Homo sapiens: one gene and its partner. Changing the gene in region 2 together with the main gene of any one other region gives a genetic interaction. Each region holds a gene or a part of one and is shown on either strand. Other genes may lie near its edges. The genes, in order: KEAP1 and PALM.

The links.
Region 1: changes in PALM (region 2) and KEAP1 together harm fitness more than expected from each alone (negative genetic interaction), as found in Homo sapiens cells (one large-scale study listed by BioGRID).

The regions. Positions count from the first base shown.
Region 1 is NC_000019.10:10,496,784-10,500,591, forward strand, and holds part of KEAP1 (kelch-like ECH-associated protein 1), read right to left. Parts: intron 3,298-3,808; 5' UTR 3,251-3,297; coding exon 2,612-3,250; intron 1-2,611. UniProt on the Homo sapiens protein: Substrate-specific adapter of a BCR (BTB-CUL3-RBX1) E3 ubiquitin ligase complex that regulates the response to oxidative stress by targeting NFE2L2/NRF2 for ubiquitination.
Region 2 is NC_000019.10:715,127-718,934, reverse strand, and holds part of PALM (paralemmin-1), read right to left. Parts: intron 1-3,808. UniProt on the Homo sapiens protein: Involved in plasma membrane dynamics and cell process formation. Isoform 1 and isoform 2 are necessary for axonal and dendritic filopodia induction, for dendritic spine maturation and synapse formation in a palmitoylation-dependent manner.

The DNA of each region.
Region 1 (3,808 bases), 9.8 Mb from region 2:
AGAGCCAGACTCAGTCTCAAAAACAAAAAAGGACTGGGCGGTGGGGGGCGGGCGTGGGCGCAGTGTCTCATGCCTGTAATCCCAGCACAGTTAGGGAGGCCAAGGCAGGCAGATCACCTGAGCTCAGGGGTTCGAGACCAGCCTGGCCAACATGGTGAAACCCCATCTGTACTAAAAATATTTTTTAAAAATTAGCTGGGCATAGTGGTAGGCACCTGTAATCCCAGCTACTTGGGAGGCTGAGGCAGGAGAATTGCTTGAACCCAGGAGATGGAGGTTGCAGTGAGCCGATACAGTGCCACTGCATGCCAGCCTGGGTGACAGAGTGAGACTCCGTCTCAAAAAAAAAAAAAAAAGTTGTCAGGCACTCGTCTATGTAATCAGTTTTAATCTAGTACCCCATGTTCATACAAACACAAGAAAGAAACACTGTATATGTTTCTCCTACTGTATAGACCACTTTCCTAGAAGCTGCAGGCCCTAGGACTAACGCCAGAGAACCCTGGGGCGTCTGATCAACCCCACATGTAACATAGAGGGTAGGAAAGAATCTATCCCTGAAGGAGAGAAATAGAGATCAGTGTAACATCCATCCCAGCTGGTACCAGCCAGTGGGGGACTTAGAAAATTTCCAGGAAGGAACACCAAGACATGGGACTCCCGAAGGCTTAGGGCCTGGGGCACTGCCCTGCTTGCCTAGGCTGAAGGGTAGTACTGCCTCATAGGACAGTTGGGAACAGTCAATGATGCAAAGGACATAAATCACTTAGAACAGGGGCTGGCCCACAGCAAGTGCTCAATAAACACTTCTTGGCCTGGTGTTGGTATGGTGCTTCATACCTGTAATCCCAACACTACGGGAGGCCAAAGCCAGAGGATTGTTCAAAGCCAGGAGGTTCGAGACCAGTCTCAGCAACATAGCAAGACCCTGTCTCTACAAAAAAATTTAAAAACTAAAAAATTAGCCATGCGTGGTGCTGCATACCTATAGTCCCAGCTACTCAGGAGGCTGAGATAGGAGGCCTCCTTGAGCCCAAGAGTTGGAGGCTACAGTGAGCTATGATGGCACCACTGTATTCCAGCCTGGGGACAGAGCAAGACCTCATCTCTTCAAAAACTTTTTCTTTTTTTTTTGAGACAGAGTTTCGCTCTTATTGCCCAGGCTGGAGTGCAATGGCGCAATCTCAGCTCACTGCAACCTCCGCCTCCCGGGTTCAAGCGATTCTCCTGCCTCAGCCTCCTGAGTAGCTGGGATTACAAGCATGAGCCACCATGCCAGGCTAATTTTGCATTTTTAATAGAGACGTGGTTTCTCCATGTTGGTCAGGCTGGTCTTGAACTCCCGACCGCAGGTGATCTGCCCACCTTGGCCTTCCAAAGTGCTGGGATTATAGGCATGAGCCACCGCGCCCAGGCTTTTTTTTTTTTTTTTTTGAGACAGAGTCTTGCTCTGTCGCCCAGGCTGGAGTGCAATGGTGCGATCTCGGCTCACTGCAACCTCCACCTCCCCGGTTCAAGCGATTCTCCTGTCTCAGCCTCTCGAGTAGCAGGGACTATAGTCACATGCCACTACACCCGGCTAGTTTTCTTTTTTTGTATTTTTATTAGAGATGGGGTTTCACCATATTGGTCAGGCTGGTCTCAAACTCCTGACCTCAGGTGAGCCACCCGCCTCAGCCTCCCAAAGTGCTGGGATTACAGGCGTGAGCCACTGGGCCCTGCCCTCTCTTGTCAATTTCTATAGATAATTTCCTTCACTGAGAAATGTGAAAACGAAACCAAAAACAGTATAAGGACATTGTGTGGACCAAAGAAAACATGACTAAGGTTCAGACTTACAGCTTGCAGCCTGTCACGGGTGTCCAATAAACATTTGCTGACTGCCCGAAAGGCTGGGCTACCCTAGGATTTGGCTGCTGTTCACTGCACTCTGCCCCACTTTGACCCCAGAGAAACCAGGGAGCCCAGAGACATATGAAGACCTCACCTTCCCCAGCTGTTCACCAGTCTCCCCACATGTGTAGACAAGGAACTCAGAACCCCAGTTGTTTTTTAATTTTTTTTTTTTTTGAAACTGAGTCTTGCTCTGTTGCGCAAGCTGGAGTGCAGTGGCTCGATCTCCACTCACTGCAACCTCCACCTCTTGGTTCAAGCGATTCTCCTGCCTCAGCCTCCTGAGCAGCTGGGACTACAGGCGCCCGCCACCAGGCCTGGCTAATTTTTATATTTTTAGTAGAGATGGGTTTTAGCTATGTGGGCCAGGCTGGTCTTGAACTCCTTACCTCAGGTGATCCACCTGCCTCGGCCTCCCAAAGTGTTGGGATTACAGGCATGAGCCACCACGCCCGGCCCCAGTTGTTTTTTGTTTGTGTGTTTGTTTGTTTAGAGACAGGGTGTCATTATGTTGCCTGGGCTGGTCTTGAACTCTTGGCCTGAAGCAATCCCCCCGCCTCAGCCCCTCAAACTGTGGAGACTACACCACCATACCCAGCCCAGAACCTCCTTTTTCTCCAGTTTCCTGCCTTGACATCTCAAGGGGAGACAGTGATGAGCACTCGTCCATCCCTGGTCCTTCTCCTGACACTGCCCCCAGCCCCACTTCCCCGCTCACCTCCCCAAAATGCATGTAGATGTACTCCCGGGCACGCTGGTGCAACTCCACACAGCCAATCTGCTCAGCGAAGTTGGCGATGCCGATGGCATTGCTGGGGTCCAGCTGCTGCACCAGGAAGTCACTGCAGGCACGGACAACGCTGTCGATCTGGTACATGACAGCACCGTTCATGACGTGGAGGACACACTTCTCGCCCATGGAGATGGAGGCCGTGTAGGCGAATTCAATGAGGCGCTCCATGACCTTGGGGTGGATACCCTCAATGGACACCACCTCCATGCCCTGCTCCCGCAGCCCGTTGGTGAACATGGCCTTGAAGACAGGGCTGGATGAGGCCAGCACCACCTTGTGGGCCATGAACTGGGCGGCCGGTGCATCCTGGTACTTGACCTGCAGTGTGACGTCACACAGCTGCTGGCTGAGCCGCAGCTCGTTCATGATGCCAAAGGCCTGCTTGGTATGATCCTCCAGGGTGTAGCTGAAGGTGCGGTTGCCATGCTGGGAGGGCGTCACCTCCGCCTTGCACTCAGTGGAGGCGTACATCACCGCGTCCCCTGCCCCCTCAGGGCACTGTGACTGCAGGGGCAGGAATCGGCAGCAGGCCCCAGCCCCGCTAGGCCTGGGATCTGGCTGCATGGGGTTCCAGAAGATAAGCAACACCACCACCTCTGGCACTCAGGGACCTGGAGGGGAGAGAGCACAGGGCAGAGGGCAGGGGTTGGGACTGGGCCAGCACCTGCCGGGCCTCGTTTTGCAAGATAAAGCAATTCCTAGGTCAGTTTTCCTGCAAAGTAGGTGAAGCAGAATCCATTTGCAAACTTGCAAACTTCCCCGACCTGATCAACCTGATTGGCCCAAGAGCCCATCTTAAAACATACATGAAGTCATGTCTCTCCCCTGCTCTGGATCCTCCAATGCCTCCCACAGTACCTAGTAAAACTGAACTCCTCAACAGCCTGCAAAGCCCTACGCAATTAGCCCCTGCCACCTCTTCCCTTTGATCACTCTGCTTCAGCAATCTGGCGGCCTTTCCCTTTCTAGAGCATGTTGAGCTCATTCCTTCATTTGCCTCACCATTTACTGGGCACCTACTGTATGCCAGGCACTGATCTGGGTGCTGAAGACACAGCAGTGAGCAAAATACAAAAATCCTACCCTGCCAGAGCTGACAACTGCAGGGAGGAGCAATCATAA
Region 2 (3,808 bases):
GGTCCTCAGAGCCTGTGTCTCCCCTGAGCGCTGGCACCCCCGGCCCTGCTTCCTCCACCGCCCTGCCCTGCTCCAAGCCCCGGAGTCCAAGCCCCAATGTCAGCCCCTCACCCTTCATCAGCTCCCAGCTTCCCCTTTCCCTTCTCCACCGCCAAGATCAGCTCAAGCACAGCCACCTCCTCCAGGCAGCCTTCCAGGAAGGAACCTCCTCCCAGCCCTCCCAGGATGCAGCACGGAGGCCCCCAGGGCCATCCCAGTCTCTGGGGCACCGAGAACCCTAAACGGGTTACGGCAGAGAGGCATCACCCCGGGGGAGAGGAGAAGACGGAGGTCAAAGCAGGCCACAGATGCAGAGAAGCAAACCTGTTGCCTATTAACCTGGGGTGGGAAGGGACCCTGCCCGGGCCCTCAGGGGAAGACGGGGCAGTGAGGCGTGAACGGGGCCTTCCCTGGCTTTCAGCAGGGTCTCAGGGCAAACCCTGCTGCAGAGGCCCCATGGTCCCTCCCCACGCGACTGCACTCCAGCCACACTCCTGAGACGTCCCACAGAGCTCCCACTGCAGGGCCATTGTGCTGGCTGCATTGCTGCCTGGTGCACGGTCACCCAGACCTCCCCGGGCCTCAGGCCCAAGGCCTTTCTGCAGACGTCACCTCCTCATTTAGGCCTCTTCTGTCCTAATTTTCAGCCCCAGGCACCCCTGCAGCTGTCACCACCCGGATCACTTTACTTATCTTTTTCTTTTCTTTTTTTTTGAGATGGAGTCTCCCTCTGTTGCCCAGGCTGGAGTGCGGTGGCGCGATCTCGGCTCGCTGCAACCTCCGCCTCCTGGGTTCAAGTGATTCTCCTGCCTCAGCCTCCTGAGTAGCTGGGATTACAGGCACATGCCACCACGCCCGGCTAATTTTCGTATTTTTAGTAGAGACGGGGTTTCACCATGTTGGCCAGGCTGGTCTCGAACTCCTGACCTCAGGTGGTTCGCCCGCCTCAGCCTCCCAAAGTGCTGGGATTACAGGCGTGATCTTGTCTTCCCACTAGGACAGCAACTGTGTCATTTTTGTCCCTGCCATGTCCCTGGCACCAGGCATACAGCAGGTGCTCAATAAATGCTTGCTGCCCCAGGGAGTCGATTAGGGTCTTTCCATCTTCAGAGGAAGCCCCCACCCAGAGGTCCCCCCAATCCCGGCCCCCTCTTCTCACACTCCCGCCACTCCCAGGGCCACCTGTCATCTGATCACTGCCTCTTCTTTTTAAAGAAACTCACTGTCACGACTTACACTTATGTAAAGTAGGACCCGGACTCCTCAGTGTGAACAGAGCACAAGCTCCAACCATCTCGGGGGGTAACTACAGATTCACAGATAAACCAACCCGGGTGTCCATCCACAGATGTGTGGGTAAACGCAATGTGGCCGTCCACGCACTGGGACATGACTCAGCCGTGAACAGGAGCGAGGCTCTGACCCAGGCCACGGCGCGGATGCACCTTGAGGACATCACGCTCAGTGAGAGACGCCAGACACAGAAGGCCACGCAGCGTGTGATCCCATGTCTACGAAATGTCCAGGACCTGCCGATCCAGAGACAGGAAGGGGACTGGCTCCCCGAGGGCTGGGGGGAGGGGGACGGGAGGGGATGCCTAATGGGGACAGGGCTTGTTTTGGGGGTGATGAAAATGTTCTACAATTGTGGTGAAAGATACACAACTCTGCTGGGCGCGGTGGCTCACACCTGTAATCCCAGCACTTTGGGAGGCCAAGGCAGGTGGATCACAAGGTCAAGAGATTGAGACCATCCTGGTCAATATGGTGAAACCCCGTCTCTACTAAAAACACAAAAATTAGCCGGGCGTGGTGGCACGTGCCTGTAATCTCCGCTGCTCAGGAGGCTGAGGCAGGAGAACCACTTGAACCCGGGAGGCGGAGGTTGCAGTGAGCCGGGATTACGTCACTGCACTCCAGCCTATGTGACAGAGAGACTCTGTCTCAAAAAAAAAAAAAGTACACCCTGTCAGTGTACTAAAAACGCCTGAGCTGTACACTTTAAGCAGCCAGACTGTGTAGCGTGTGAAATGTATTTTAATGAAGCTGTTAAGAATGATATACATACAGACGTGTGTATACATACCTGTGTACGTGTGTGTATACGTGCATGTGTAATGGGAATGCCAGCCTTCTCAACAAGAGCCAGGCCAGGGGCTGGGGTCCTTCCCAACCCCCATGGAGTGCTGAAACCCCTGCTGGCCCTGCCCTGAGACTTTCCATGGCTGGAAGCGTTTGAATACAAACTGATGAGGACATCAGCTTCTCGCTCCCTGACAGGGGTTACTGAAGAACCCTGGGCCTCTGTCCCTCCCCGGCCTTCAGGGTCCCGCATCTCTGCCTCCATTGCCCACAGCCTCTGCCCACCCAGGAGGGGCTCCCAGGCCTGGCCCTGTCCCACCACCAGTCTGTTGACCATGCAGCGCCTCCCACTCAGCTGGCCTCACTCTGGTCCTAATCTAAACTTTCTTTTTTTTTTTTTTTGAGAGAAAGAGTCTCGCTCTGTCACCCAGGCTGGAGGGCAGTGGCGCAATCTCGGCTCACTGCAACCTCCTCCTGGGTTCAAGCGATTCTCCTGCCTCAGCCTCCCGAGTAGCTGGGATTACAGGCACCTGCCACCATGCCTGGCTAATTTTTGTATTTTTGGTAGAGACGGGGGTTTCACCATGTTGACCAGGCTGGTCTCGAACTCCTGAACTCAGGTGATCTGCCCGCCTCGGCCTCCCAAAGTGCTGGGATTACAGGCGTGAGCCACCATGCCCAGCCCTAATCTAAGTCTTCCCCATCCCAAGGCCTAGCTCCCCTTCCCTCTTCCCACCCAGTCCAGGCTCTGTCCTGGTGACTGGCTCTGACTGTCCCTGAATTTCTGCTTGAAACCCTGGGGCGGGAGACAGCCACTCTGGCCTGATTTTACACTCCTCAGACACCAAGACGTCCACGCAGCCATCCTCCTAGAGGACGCCCTCCACCCCCTCATGTATCCAGGGACCAGGCTACTTCTCCCCAGCCAGGGAGCCCCGTCCCTGTGGGCATCACTGACCACACGCAGTTCTGGAATCCTGTGTTTGCCCTCCTAGACGTGGGGTCCTGCCCCCTCTGGCTCTGCCATTTCTCTGCATGCTGCCCCTGCAGCCACAATCAAGGCTTGGCCATGACTTGCTCCTCCCTGGGCTCACTCCTCAGCTGCCAGCGCCTTTTTTGATGACCAGGTCAGCCACTGCTCCTCCCCTGCTCACACACTATCCATGACTCCCCATCCTGGCACTCAAGGCCTAGCAGGAACAAACACCAAAGAGCATTCTCTTCTTCCAATGCTTTCCCACCTCTAGCCCTTTGCACATGCCAGTCCTTCCACAAGGTGCATCCTTCTGCCTGCCTGGATGAACCCTGAAACATCCTTCTCAGAAAAGGTTCATGATGGACTGGATGAGGAAGCCTTTCTCACACCTCAGAGAAGATGCTGCATAGCTTTCCAGACCCTGCTGATCCCGCACAGCACGAGGATGGTGAGGAGGGAGCATTTATTTGTTCAATAAACAAATGACAGGTTTCCTAGATCAAGAAAGGATGAGAGGAAACAGGGGCCCACACTCAGAAAAAGGTGATATAATGCTTTTTTTTTTTGAGACGGAGTCTCGCTCTGTCTGTCACCCAGGCTGGAGTGCAGTGGTGCAATCTCGGCTCACTGAAAGCTCCGCCTCCCAGGTTCAAGCGATTCTCCTGCCTCAGCCTCCCGAGTAGCTGGGATTATAGGCACCCGCCACCACGC